Linked DNA regions of Homo sapiens. The protein of the gene in region 3 interacts with the protein of the main gene of each other region in a pairwise test. Each region holds a gene or a part of one and is shown on either strand. Other genes may lie near its edges. The genes, in order: PKN2, RCC1 and CHGB.

Region 1 (3,655 bases), on a different chromosome or scaffold from region 3:
TACATAAATATTGCCTGTAAAAAATGAAGATCAAGAAAGCATGGGACAGTGTACTTGATGACAGTAAACACCTTAAATGTGAAGGTAGTGTTGAAGTGCCTCATAAAGATGAGTGGATATACAAGACTTACATAATATTGTTAGGATTTATCTCTTTTAGAAATTTGTCAGTGACTTATCAAATTGGTGAAAGTTTTACTGCCCTGGCTCATAAGTACCTTAATTTAATGGAATGTAGTTATGACAAAATTTGGAATTTATTTTTGATTATAGAAGACATACCACACAATACATGTGCTGAGAGTTTTTTATTTATTTTATTTTTATTTTTATTTTTGAGACAGGATCTCGTTCTGTCACCCAGCTTGAAGTGCAGTGACGTGATCTCGGCTCACTGCAGCCTCTGCCTCCTGGGCTCAAGTGATTCGCCCATCTCAGCCTCCCAAGTAGCTGGTACTATAGGTGTGAGCCATCATGCATGGTTGATTTTTATATTTTTTTGGAGAGACGGGGTTTTGCCATGTTGCCCGGGTTGGTTTTGAACTGCTGGACTCAAGCAGTCCACCTGCCTTGGCCTCCCAAAGTGCTAGGATTACAGATGTGAGCGTCTGTGCCTGGCCTGAGTATCATATATTTTACACATTAATCATACTGTTTTCCCTTCCCTGTAGTTGCTACCTTAGGGATTCTTTAAGGAGGTGTTTGTTCTCCATTTCAGAATTTTCATTGAACAAATTTTATGCAACTTTTGGATTTTTAAAAAATTTGTTAAACATCAGGCACACTGCATTGGATTAATCACCTATCTGTCTGTCAATCATTTTAATAAGTACTCATGGACCACCACTCCCCCTCTCTCAAAACAAGCTAGGAACTTTAACCTACGTATAGTTTTCCTCTATTCTATCCGTCTATTTCCACCTTCTTGTCATCTAGGTCATCATTTTTGAGTCCTGTGTTCATTCTCTTCCTTATATAGTAGTCCCTCCTTATCCACGGTTTCAGTTACCCATGGTCAACTGTGGTCCAAAAATAGGTGAGTACAGTATAGTACTATAAGATATTTATAAGTACTAAGATACTTTGAGAGAAACCACACTCATAACTGTAATTACAGTATAGTTATAATTGTTCTATTTTATTATTAGTTATTGTTAATTGCTTACTGTGCCTAATTTATAAATTAAACTTTAGCATAAGTATGTATGTTAAAGGAAAAGTGTAAATAGAGTTTAGTACTGTTCGTGGTTTTAGGCATTTACTGAAGGTCTCTCGGTGGATAAAAGGAGACTACTGTGTATAGTTTAGTTGGACATATAAATCTAAACATCTTTTAGTTGTTTGTATAGAATTGTGAATATAATCTTTTTGAACTTGATTTTTCACCTGTTATAAATAAGATTTATCCACATTTTTGCATGTTGCTATAGTCATTATTTAAATTGCTATATAATATTTCATTGAGTAAAATATTCATTAACTCTACTTTGGTGGATATTTGGATATTTATCCACTCTCCCTTGTTGGGCAGTTATTTTCCATTTTTTGTTTTGTTTTGTTTGTAATTATAAGCAAAGATCCTATGGACAGTCTGCATGTTTCCTACTGTGCATGTGCCACAGTTCCTATTATATACCTAGAGGTAGCATTGCTGCCTCACAGGGTAGGTGAATGTTCAACTTAAGAGATGATGCAGAACTTTCAATATGGTTGCACCAATTTATATTCATATTAGCAATATATGAAATAAAAGATCCTTTGGTTATCCATCCTCTCCAACACTTGATATTCTCTTTTTAAGTTTTACAAATCATAAGGGTGTAAAATGTTGCCTTATTGTGGTCTTGATGCGCATTTTCCTGGTTATCACTGATGTAGAACACTTCTTTTTATGTTTGTCGGCCTTTTTACGTGGCTTCTTCAGTGAAATTCCTATTTATGTCTCTTGCCTATTTTTGTTTTTCTTACTAGTTTATAAGAGTTCTTTATATTGCTTATGTTAATCCTCTGTGTACATTGTGAATGTCTTCTTTCAGTTCCTAACTTTTTCGCTTTCTTTTATGGAGTTGTGTGGGAGGGACAGTTTTAAATGCCTCTACCTTCTTTGGCAAATATTTGGAATAATTTACATCGTTATCATCAACAGGCTTGTATTTAATATCTATTGTACATTTGGTATAGAAAGGGTAAAGTTATATTAATAGTTTATGGCCTGGGGATTTGTAAACTATCCAAATGAACAGCCATAGGAAGTTGTATAAAATATTGTATTGCTTCACACATGCTAGGCACCCAAATGCTAGGTTGATTTAGTTAATGAGTAAATTCAGAAGCAAAGAAATAGCAAAAATTATACATACACTTCATCAGTTGCTTATTTTCCAATTCCATACCTCTCTGTTGCAAACTACTTATTATTAGTCATTAATAATATTTTATTCTTTTGTTTAAAGGGCAGTATATTCCGTAAGATTATGTGAGTCAGTTATTTAGGTATTTTCATAGCTTGCCATTAAAATGCTGGAGTTGATCAGATTTAATACTGGATATAAAGCAAAATATTAATCTTCTGAACAGTTTACTAGTTCAGAAGTTTACAAACTCGGAATCCTAAATACAGTTTTTGTCATTGCTGTGCATCTTTTGATAAAAAAAATTCTTAAGTCAAATTTGTCCATTGTTTATCATACAGTAAGTCCTCACTTAATGTCATTGACGGGTTCTTGGAAACTGACTTTAAGCAAAATAACTTATAATGAAACCAGTTTCTTTTTTCTCATCAGTGTTCTAAGGAAATGATATTATAAACAATGAAACATTAGCCAGAAGTGGTGATGCACACCTGTAGTCCCAGCTACTTTGGAGGTGGAGGTGAGAGAATGACTTGAGCCCAAGAGTTAAGGCTGCAGTGAGCTGGAATCGTGTCATTGCACTCTAACCTGGGCAGCATAGTGAGACCCTGTCTCAAAAAAAGAAAGAAAAGAAATGATATTGAGCGAAACAGCATTATTAAAGGACCTGAAGCACATTGTTTTTCTTAAAGTCTCAGTTCCAAGAACCTATCAGCAGTGTTAAGTGAGGACTTACTGTAATTGCTTTTCATGCCCTTTTAAATAAATTATTCCCTATCCTGGGTTTAAAAGATAGCTACCCAAGTTTGCTCCTAAGAATCTTGCAGTTTTATTTTTTAGATTTAAGTCAGTTTATCTGGATTTGTTGTTTTTTAATAGACTTCATATTTTAAAGCAGTTTTAGGTCCACAGCAAAATCGAGAGGAAGGTCTAGAGATTTCTCAAATAACTGCGTCCCTACATATGTACATATGCATTATCGACATCCTCCACAAGAGTACATTTGTTGCAGTTGATGAACCTATATTGACACATCATCATCATCCAGAGCCCAGAGTGCACACATCTTGGTGTTGTGCATTCTATGGGTTTGTACAAATGTATAATGACATGTATCCAGCATTATAGTATACAGAATAGTGTCCCTGCACTAAGCTTATTCTCTGTGTTCTACCTATTCATCCTTCCCTCTCCTCCATCCCCTGGCAACCACTGATCTTTTTACAGTTTCCATAGTTGTGCGTTTGGGAAAATCTCATGCGGTTGGAATCATACAGTGTGTAGCCATTTTACATGGGTTTCTT
Region 2 (3,655 bases), on a different chromosome or scaffold from region 3:
ATTCTCCTGCTTCAGCCTCCTGAGTAGCTGGGATTACAGGCGCCTGCCACCATGCCCAGCTAATTTTTGTATTTTTAGTAGAGACGGGGTTTTACCATGTTGGCCAGCCTGGACTTGAACTCCTAAACGTCAGGTGATCCACCCGCCTCAGCCTACCAAAGTGCTGGGATTACAGGCGTGAGCCACCGCGCCTGGCCATTTTGTGTATTTTTAGTAGAGACCGGGTTTCACCATTTTTGCCAGGCTGGTCTGGAACTCCCGACCTCAGGTGACCTGCCCATCTTGGCCTCCCAAAGTGCTGGGATTACAGGCATGAGCAACTGCACCTGGCCTTTATTTTTATTTTTTTAGTTTTGTATTTGTATTTTTTATTTTATTTTGAGATGGAGTCTCATTCTGTTGCCCAGGCTGGAGTGCAGTGGTGCAATCTCGGCTCACTGCAACCTCTGCCCCCTGGGTTCAAGCAATTTTCCTGCCTCAGTCTCCAGAGTAGCTGGGATTACAGACACGCACCACCATGCCCGGCTCATTTTTGTATTTTTAATAGAGACAGGGTTTCACCATGTTGGCCAGGCCGGTCTTGAGCTCTTGACCTCAAGTGATCCACCCATCTCGGCCTCCCAAAGTGCTGGGATTACACGTGTGAACTACTGCGCCCAGCCCCAGTTGTTTGTCTCAAGAGTCTCACTCTGTCATCCAGGCTGGAGTGCAGTGGCAGGATCTCGGCTCACTGCAACCTCTGCCTCAGCCTCCCGAGTAGCTGGGACCACAGATGTGCACCACCATGCCCAGCTAATTTTTTTTTTTGAGACGGAGTCTCACTCTGTTGCCTAGGCTGGAGTGTAATGGCGTGATCTCAGTTCACTGCAATCTCTGCCTCCTGGGTTCAAGCAATTCTCCTGTTTCAGCCTCCCGAGTAGCTGGGATTACAGGCGTGCACCACCACGTCCAGCTAATTGCCCATCTAATTTTTGTATTTTTGGTAGAGACAGGGTTTCACTATGTTGGCCAGGCTGGTCTTGAACTTCTGAGCCTCAGCAGTCAGCCTGCCTTGGCATCCCAAAGTGTTGGAATTACAGGAGTGAGCCATCGCAACTGGCTGATATGGAGGTTCTGGCTGTAATAATGTACTGTGGGTTTTATAACATATATAAAAGTAAGACACATGACAATATCAAAGACTATATAGTGAGAAATGGAAGAAATATTTATTTATTTTTTCGAGACGGAGTCTCGCTCTGACCTCGTGATCTGCCTGCCTTGGCTTCCCAAAGTGCTGGGATGGATTACAGGCGTGAGCCACTGTGCCCAGCCGGAAGATTGTTTTTTTTTTTTGAGATGGAGTTTTGCTCTTGTTGCCCAGGCTGGAGTGCAATGGCATGATCTCGGCTCACTGCAACCTCTGCCTCCCAGGTTCAAGCAATTCTCCTGCCTCAGCATCCCGAGTTGCTGGGATTATAGGCATGTGCCACCATGCCCGGCTAATTTTGTATTTTTAGTAGAGACGGGGTTTCTCCATGTTGGTCAGGCTGGTCTTGTACTCCCGACCTCAGGTGATCCGCCAGTCTCAGCCTCCCAAAGTGCTGGGATTACAAGTGTGAGCCACCACACCAGGCCGCCAGAAGGTTTTTTTTTTGTTTTTTTTTTGAGACGGAGTCTCGCTCTGTCGCCCAGGCTGGAGTGCAGTGGCGCGATCTTGGCTCACTGCAAGCTCCACCTCCTGGGTTCATGCCATTCTCCTGCCTCAGCCTCCCTAGTAGCTGGGACTACAGGCACCCGCCACCACGCCCGGCTAATTTTTTGTATTTTTAGTAGAGATGGGGTTTCACCGTGTTAGCCAAGACGGTCTTGATCTCCTGATCTCGTGATCCGCCCGCCTCGGCCTCCCAAAATGCTGGGATAACAGGCGTGAGCCACCGGGCCCCGCCTTTTTTTTTTTTGAGACGGAGTCTTGCTCTGTTGCCTAGGCTGGCACGATCTCAGCTCACTGCAACCTCTGCTTCCAGGTTCAAGCAATCTTCTGCCTCAGCCTCCCAAGTAGCTGAGACTACAGGCGAGCACCACCACACCTGGCTAATTTTTTTTTTTTTGTATTTTTAGTAGAGGCGGGGTTTCACCATATTGGCCAGGCTGGGGAAGATTCTTATACTACAAGTGAACTGGTTTAATATCAATTGAATGTGGACTATTGTAAGTTAAAAATGTATAATATGGCTGGGCATGGTGACTCATGCCTGTATTCCTAGCACTTTGGGAGGCCAAGGTGGGAGGATTGCTTGAGCCCTGGAGGTCAAGACCAGCTGGGACAACATCATGAGACCTTGTCTCTACAAAAAATACAAAATTTAGCCAGCCATAGTGGCACATGCCTGTGGTCTTCACTACTCAGGAGACCGAGCTGGGAGGATGGCTTGAGCCCAGGAGTTCCAGTTTAAGGCTGCAGTGAGTCATAATCTTGCCACTGAACTCTGGCCTGGGTGACAGAGTGAGACCCTGTCTTAAAAAAAAAAAGTAAATAGCCTAAACACTCCAATTAAAAGACATAGACTGTCATACTGAAAAACCCAACATGTTACCTACAAGAAATAAAATTTTAAAATAAGGCCAGGCACGGTGGCTCATGCCTGTAATTCTAGCACTTTGGGAGGTCAGGGCAGGCGGACTGCCTGAGCTCAGGAGTTTGAGACCAGCCTGGGCAACATGGTGAAACCCCATCTCTACTAAAATACAAAAAAATTAGCCAGGCATGGTGGTGCATGCTGTAGTACCAGCTGCTCCAGAGGCTGAGGCATGAAAATTGCTTGAACCTGGGAGGCAGAGGTTGCAGTGAGCTGAGATCGCATCACTGCACTTCAGCCGCGCAAACCCCATCTCTACTAAAAATACAAAAAAATTAGCTGGGCGTGGTGGTGCGTGACTGTAATTCCAGCTACTCCGGAGGCAGAAGTTGCAGTGAGCTGAGATTGTGCCACTGCACTCTGGCTTTGGCAACAGAGTGAGACTCTTGTCTAAAAAAAAAAAAGAGGCTGGGCGCGGTGGCTCACACCTGTAATCCCAGCACTTTGGGAGGCCGAGGCGGGTGGATCACAAGGTCAGGAGATTGAGACCATGGTGAAACCCCATCTCTACAAAAAATTAGCAGGGCATGGTGGCAGGCACCTGTAGTCCCAGCTGCTGGGGACGCTGAGGCAGGAGAATGGTGTGAACCCAGGAGGCGGAGCTTGCAGTGAGCCAAGATTGTGCCACTGCACTCCAGCCTTTGGAGACGCAGTCTCCAAAAAAAAAGAAACTAGCAAGGATAGATTTGAACAACACTAATACAACAACAATAATACACTTTCAAGTAGCCCATAGATCAAAGAATAGAAAAGGAACTCAAAAATATTTTGAAATGAATTAAAATGAAAACAAAACATACCAGAATTTGTGTGTTGTTAACAGTATCTGGAGGAAATTTATAGCACTAAATGCCTACATTAGAAAAAAAGAAAGGTCTCCAATCAATGAGCTCAGCTACTAGCTTAAGAAACTAGGAATAGATGAGCAAACTAACCCCAAAATAAGCAAAGAAAATAATAAAGATAAAAACAAATCAATAAAAAAGAACACAGAAAAATTAAATCAGCCAGTGCTTGCTATATGGCAGGCACAGTAC
Region 3 (3,655 bases):
GTTATCTTTGTGTTTCCAGAGTCAGAGTACATGGTATAACTGATATTTTAATTGAATGCTGTTCTCGTCCATCTTTTCCAAATATCAATAGCTCCTTTACTAAGTCCTCCTTAACTCAAGGGCACCCCATGAAAGGAGATAGGCAGTTAGCATTGTCTCAGTTGTTAGCTGGGAGGGCTTGGATTTCAACCTATGTCACAGAGTTCAGATAAAATGCCTGAAGCCAAGGCCACTGACAGCTCTGGGTCTACACTGCAGGCACCATAAGCCCAAGTGCTGTTGAGCACTTGAAATGTGGCTGGTCCGATCTGGGACATGCTATATATGTAAGATACACATCAGACTTCTGAGAATAAAGAATAATGTAAAATAATCTCAACAATTTTTATATCATTATATGTTGAAATAATATTTTGGATGTATTGGATAATATATATTTCAAATAGATCAGATTTATAAAATTATATATCAGAAAAAAATTGGATAAAAATAAAATATATTATTGAAATTAATTTCCACCTGTCTCTTTTTACTTTTTAAATGTGGTTACTATAAAATTTGAAATTATATTTGTGGCTCACATTATATTTCTATTGGGTGGCACTGATAAGTTATTTTGAAATGATATTTGCAAAATGGAAAAAAATTATTTATTTTGTAAAAATGTCCAAGAAATAGTGGACTCTCTGTACCTCTCTGTTTAAAGTCCAGTCTGGCATGATAATAATATTCTCATGTTTATGAGGCAATGAAAATGTCCCTGGCCTTTTCCAGACATCTGAGAGAAGGCCCATCTGTCACCAGTCTCTTTGCCTCTTAAAAGCCAGTGGTGGTGTGTATAGCATTGGGGCATGGCTAGCCAGATGGGCACAGGGAAGCATGGTGGCTCTGGGCAGTGCTATTGACTAAATGTTTGTGTGATTCCAAAATGTTGAAGCCCTAATCCTCAATGTGATAGCACGTGGAGGTGGGGGCCTCTGAGAGGTAATTAGGTCATCAAGGTAGAGCACTTACAATGGGATTAGTGCCCTAAGAAAGGAGATATGAGAAAGAGATGATTTCTGTCTCCACCAGATGAGGATACAGTGACAGAAGGCAGCCATCTACAAGCCAGGAAGTGGGCCCTCATAAGACACTCTGATCTTGGACTTCCGACTGCTGTAACTGTGAAAAATAAATGTTAGTTGTTTAAGCCATCCAATCTATGGTATTTGATATAGCAGCCCAAGCTGACTAAGACAGACAGATACTGATGTCATTCTGAGAGTTGGTTGAAATAGAGCTGATCAGACAAGATCTCAGCCTCCAGGGGCCGAGTCACTGTGGTCCCTTTCCTACTGCCTACTGGTTTGTGAGTCTTAAGTGTCAGGAACAGAAGTATTTTTATTTTTTCCCAATTAAATATGTACTGCCTGAGCAGCATGTGCCTGAGGCTTAGCTCTTCCTACTAAATTTAGCTTTAAGCCCCGCAGGTGGGCCTGGAAGAGGCTGTGATAGCAGCACACACTCACTGTCAAGCTGTAAAATCAAGCTGTGAAGCTCACACTTACTTTCAAGCGAAAACAGGGAAATGCATCTGTCATGCTGTAAGGATGACCAGATCAACCCTAGTCAAAGAGATTCTTGTACCTGTGAAGAAATTAGACTACGTCTTCCCTGAGGTCTCTCAAATCCATAAAACAATGATTCTGTCCTACTCCCCAAATACTCATTTGCTCAGTGAGTATATGCTGACTCTGAGACATGCAAGTAGGAGTGGGAGTGGAGATGGGCGTGGGGTGGAACAGAGGCTGTATAAAGGCATTCATCCAACCAGTTGGGCAAAAGCTCCACCAGTCTTCTGATCAGTTTACGACATGCCAACAAGAGAGAGAGAACTAGAATAGGATAAAAGTTGCAAACTGGTGCATCAGAGGTAAATTCTGTTTGACCTAAACAGCAGTTTTAGTACATCTGAATTCAGAGGCGATATGAAAATACCAGGAGATGTCTTTTAAAAATCAAAATTTTAACTTCTTTTGAAAAATCCCAAGATTTGACAACATAGTCTGTATTTCTCCATAACGGGTTTAGAGCTGAGAATTACCTGCTCCCTCTCAGAAAAGGCATGTGCCCTCCAGTCTGTGAGTCACTTCCTGTCCTGCCTTACTCTTTTGTGTTATTTGTCTGTCTAGCTCTGCCTGGTGTTTAAGGCTCAACCACAGAAGAGCTCTTAAACCTTCGCCATCTCAGCATTCTGTCACTCTCTGGGTATAACATCTCCAGGATCCTTAGATACATTTGATTTTTCCCAGTTTCCCTACGTCTCTCTCAACAGACACCAAAAGACCTCAGGGCATAATCAGGGCTGGAGCAGAGGCTAGAGTTACTATGCCATAATCTAAGGGCTAAGATCTTGGCAGGCAGGCATAGGCAACTTTTCCTAAGCAACTGTGGTTCTTTAGTGAGCTGATGGGACAGGCCCCTCACTTTTGCATTGGTCTAGTAAACAAAGAAAGGGAAAGGGAGATACCAAGATGGGTTTGCCAAAAGGAGCAGCCTTTACTCTCTGCCTAGTGACCCACTCTGCTCTTACTCACTTCCTGTAACTGCTGGAAAAAAGAAGTTGGAAAGAAACTCAGAAAGAGGTATGTGGGCTGGGAGTGGTAGGAAAGCTTCCATCCACTGTTTCTAGGGTCCCTAAAGGCTCAGGCCCCCACAGCTACCATTGTTACCTGAAGCCCCCAAAGATTGAATTAATTCAGGTTGCTCTTTTTTTTTTTTTTTTTTTTTTTTTTTTTTTTTTTAGACAGAGACTCGCTCTGTCACTGAGGCTGGAATGCCGTGGGGCAATCTCGGCTTACTGCAACCTCCACCTCCTGGGCTCAAGCGATTCTCCTGCCTCAGCCTCCTGAGTAGCTGGGACTACAGGCGTGTGTCACCACGCCCGGCTAATTTTTTGTATTTTTAGTAGAGATGGGGTTTCACTGTGTTAGACAGGATGGTCTTGATCTCCTGACCTTGTGATCCGCCCGCCTCAGCCTCCCAAAGTGCTGGGATTACAGGTGTGAGCCACTGCGCCTGGCCTCAGGTTACTCTTTTGGCCAATCACTATTTGCTTTTTACCATTTCATGCATGAGGGCTCATGTATAGCTATAGCAAGAGAGTCTTGTCTGGCAGCGAGAGGTGTTTATTTGGTGTTTTTTTTGTTTTTGTTTTTGTTTTTGATGGAGCCTCACTCTGCCACCCAGGCTGTATCCAGGCTGGAGTGGAATGCCACGATCTCAGTTCACTGCAACCTCTGCTTCCCAGGTTCTAGCGATTCTCCTGCCTCAGCCTCCCAAGTAGCTGGGATTACAGGCGCCCGCCACCACACCCAACTAGTTGTTGTATTTTTAGTAGAGATGGGGTTTCACCATATTGGCCAGGCTGGTGGCAATGAGAGTTTTTTTTTTTTTTTTTTTTTTTAGATGGAGTCTTACTCTTGTTGCCCAGGCTGGAGTTCAATGGAGTTCAATCTTGGCTCACTGCAGTCTCTGCCTCCCAAGTTCAAGCAATTCTCCTGTCTCGGCCTCCTGAGTAGTGGGATTACAGGTGCCTGCCACCATGCCTGGCTAATTTTTTTTTTTTTTTTTTGTATTTTTAGTAGAGACAGGGTTTCACCATGTTGGCCAG

Evidence for each region.
Region 1: the proteins of CHGB (region 3) and PKN2 interact in a two-hybrid assay, tested with the Homo sapiens proteins (one large-scale study listed by BioGRID and IntAct).
Region 2: the proteins of CHGB (region 3) and RCC1 interact in a two-hybrid assay, tested with the Homo sapiens proteins (one large-scale study listed by BioGRID and IntAct).

The regions. Positions count from the first base shown.
Region 1 is NC_000001.11:88,690,745-88,694,399, forward strand, and holds part of PKN2 (serine/threonine-protein kinase N2), read left to right. Parts: intron 1-979; exon of another isoform or gene 980-1,036; intron 1,037-3,655. UniProt on the Homo sapiens protein: PKC-related serine/threonine-protein kinase and Rho/Rac effector protein that participates in specific signal transduction responses in the cell.
Region 2 is NC_000001.11:28,512,442-28,516,096, reverse strand, and holds part of RCC1 (regulator of chromosome condensation), read right to left. Parts: intron 1-3,655. UniProt on the Homo sapiens protein: Guanine-nucleotide releasing factor that promotes the exchange of Ran-bound GDP by GTP, and thereby plays an important role in RAN-mediated functions in nuclear import and mitosis.
Region 3 is NC_000020.11:5,917,942-5,921,596, reverse strand, and holds part of CHGB (secretogranin-1 precursor), read right to left. Parts: intron 1-3,655. UniProt on the Homo sapiens protein: Secretogranin-1 is a neuroendocrine secretory granule protein, which may be the precursor for other biologically active peptides.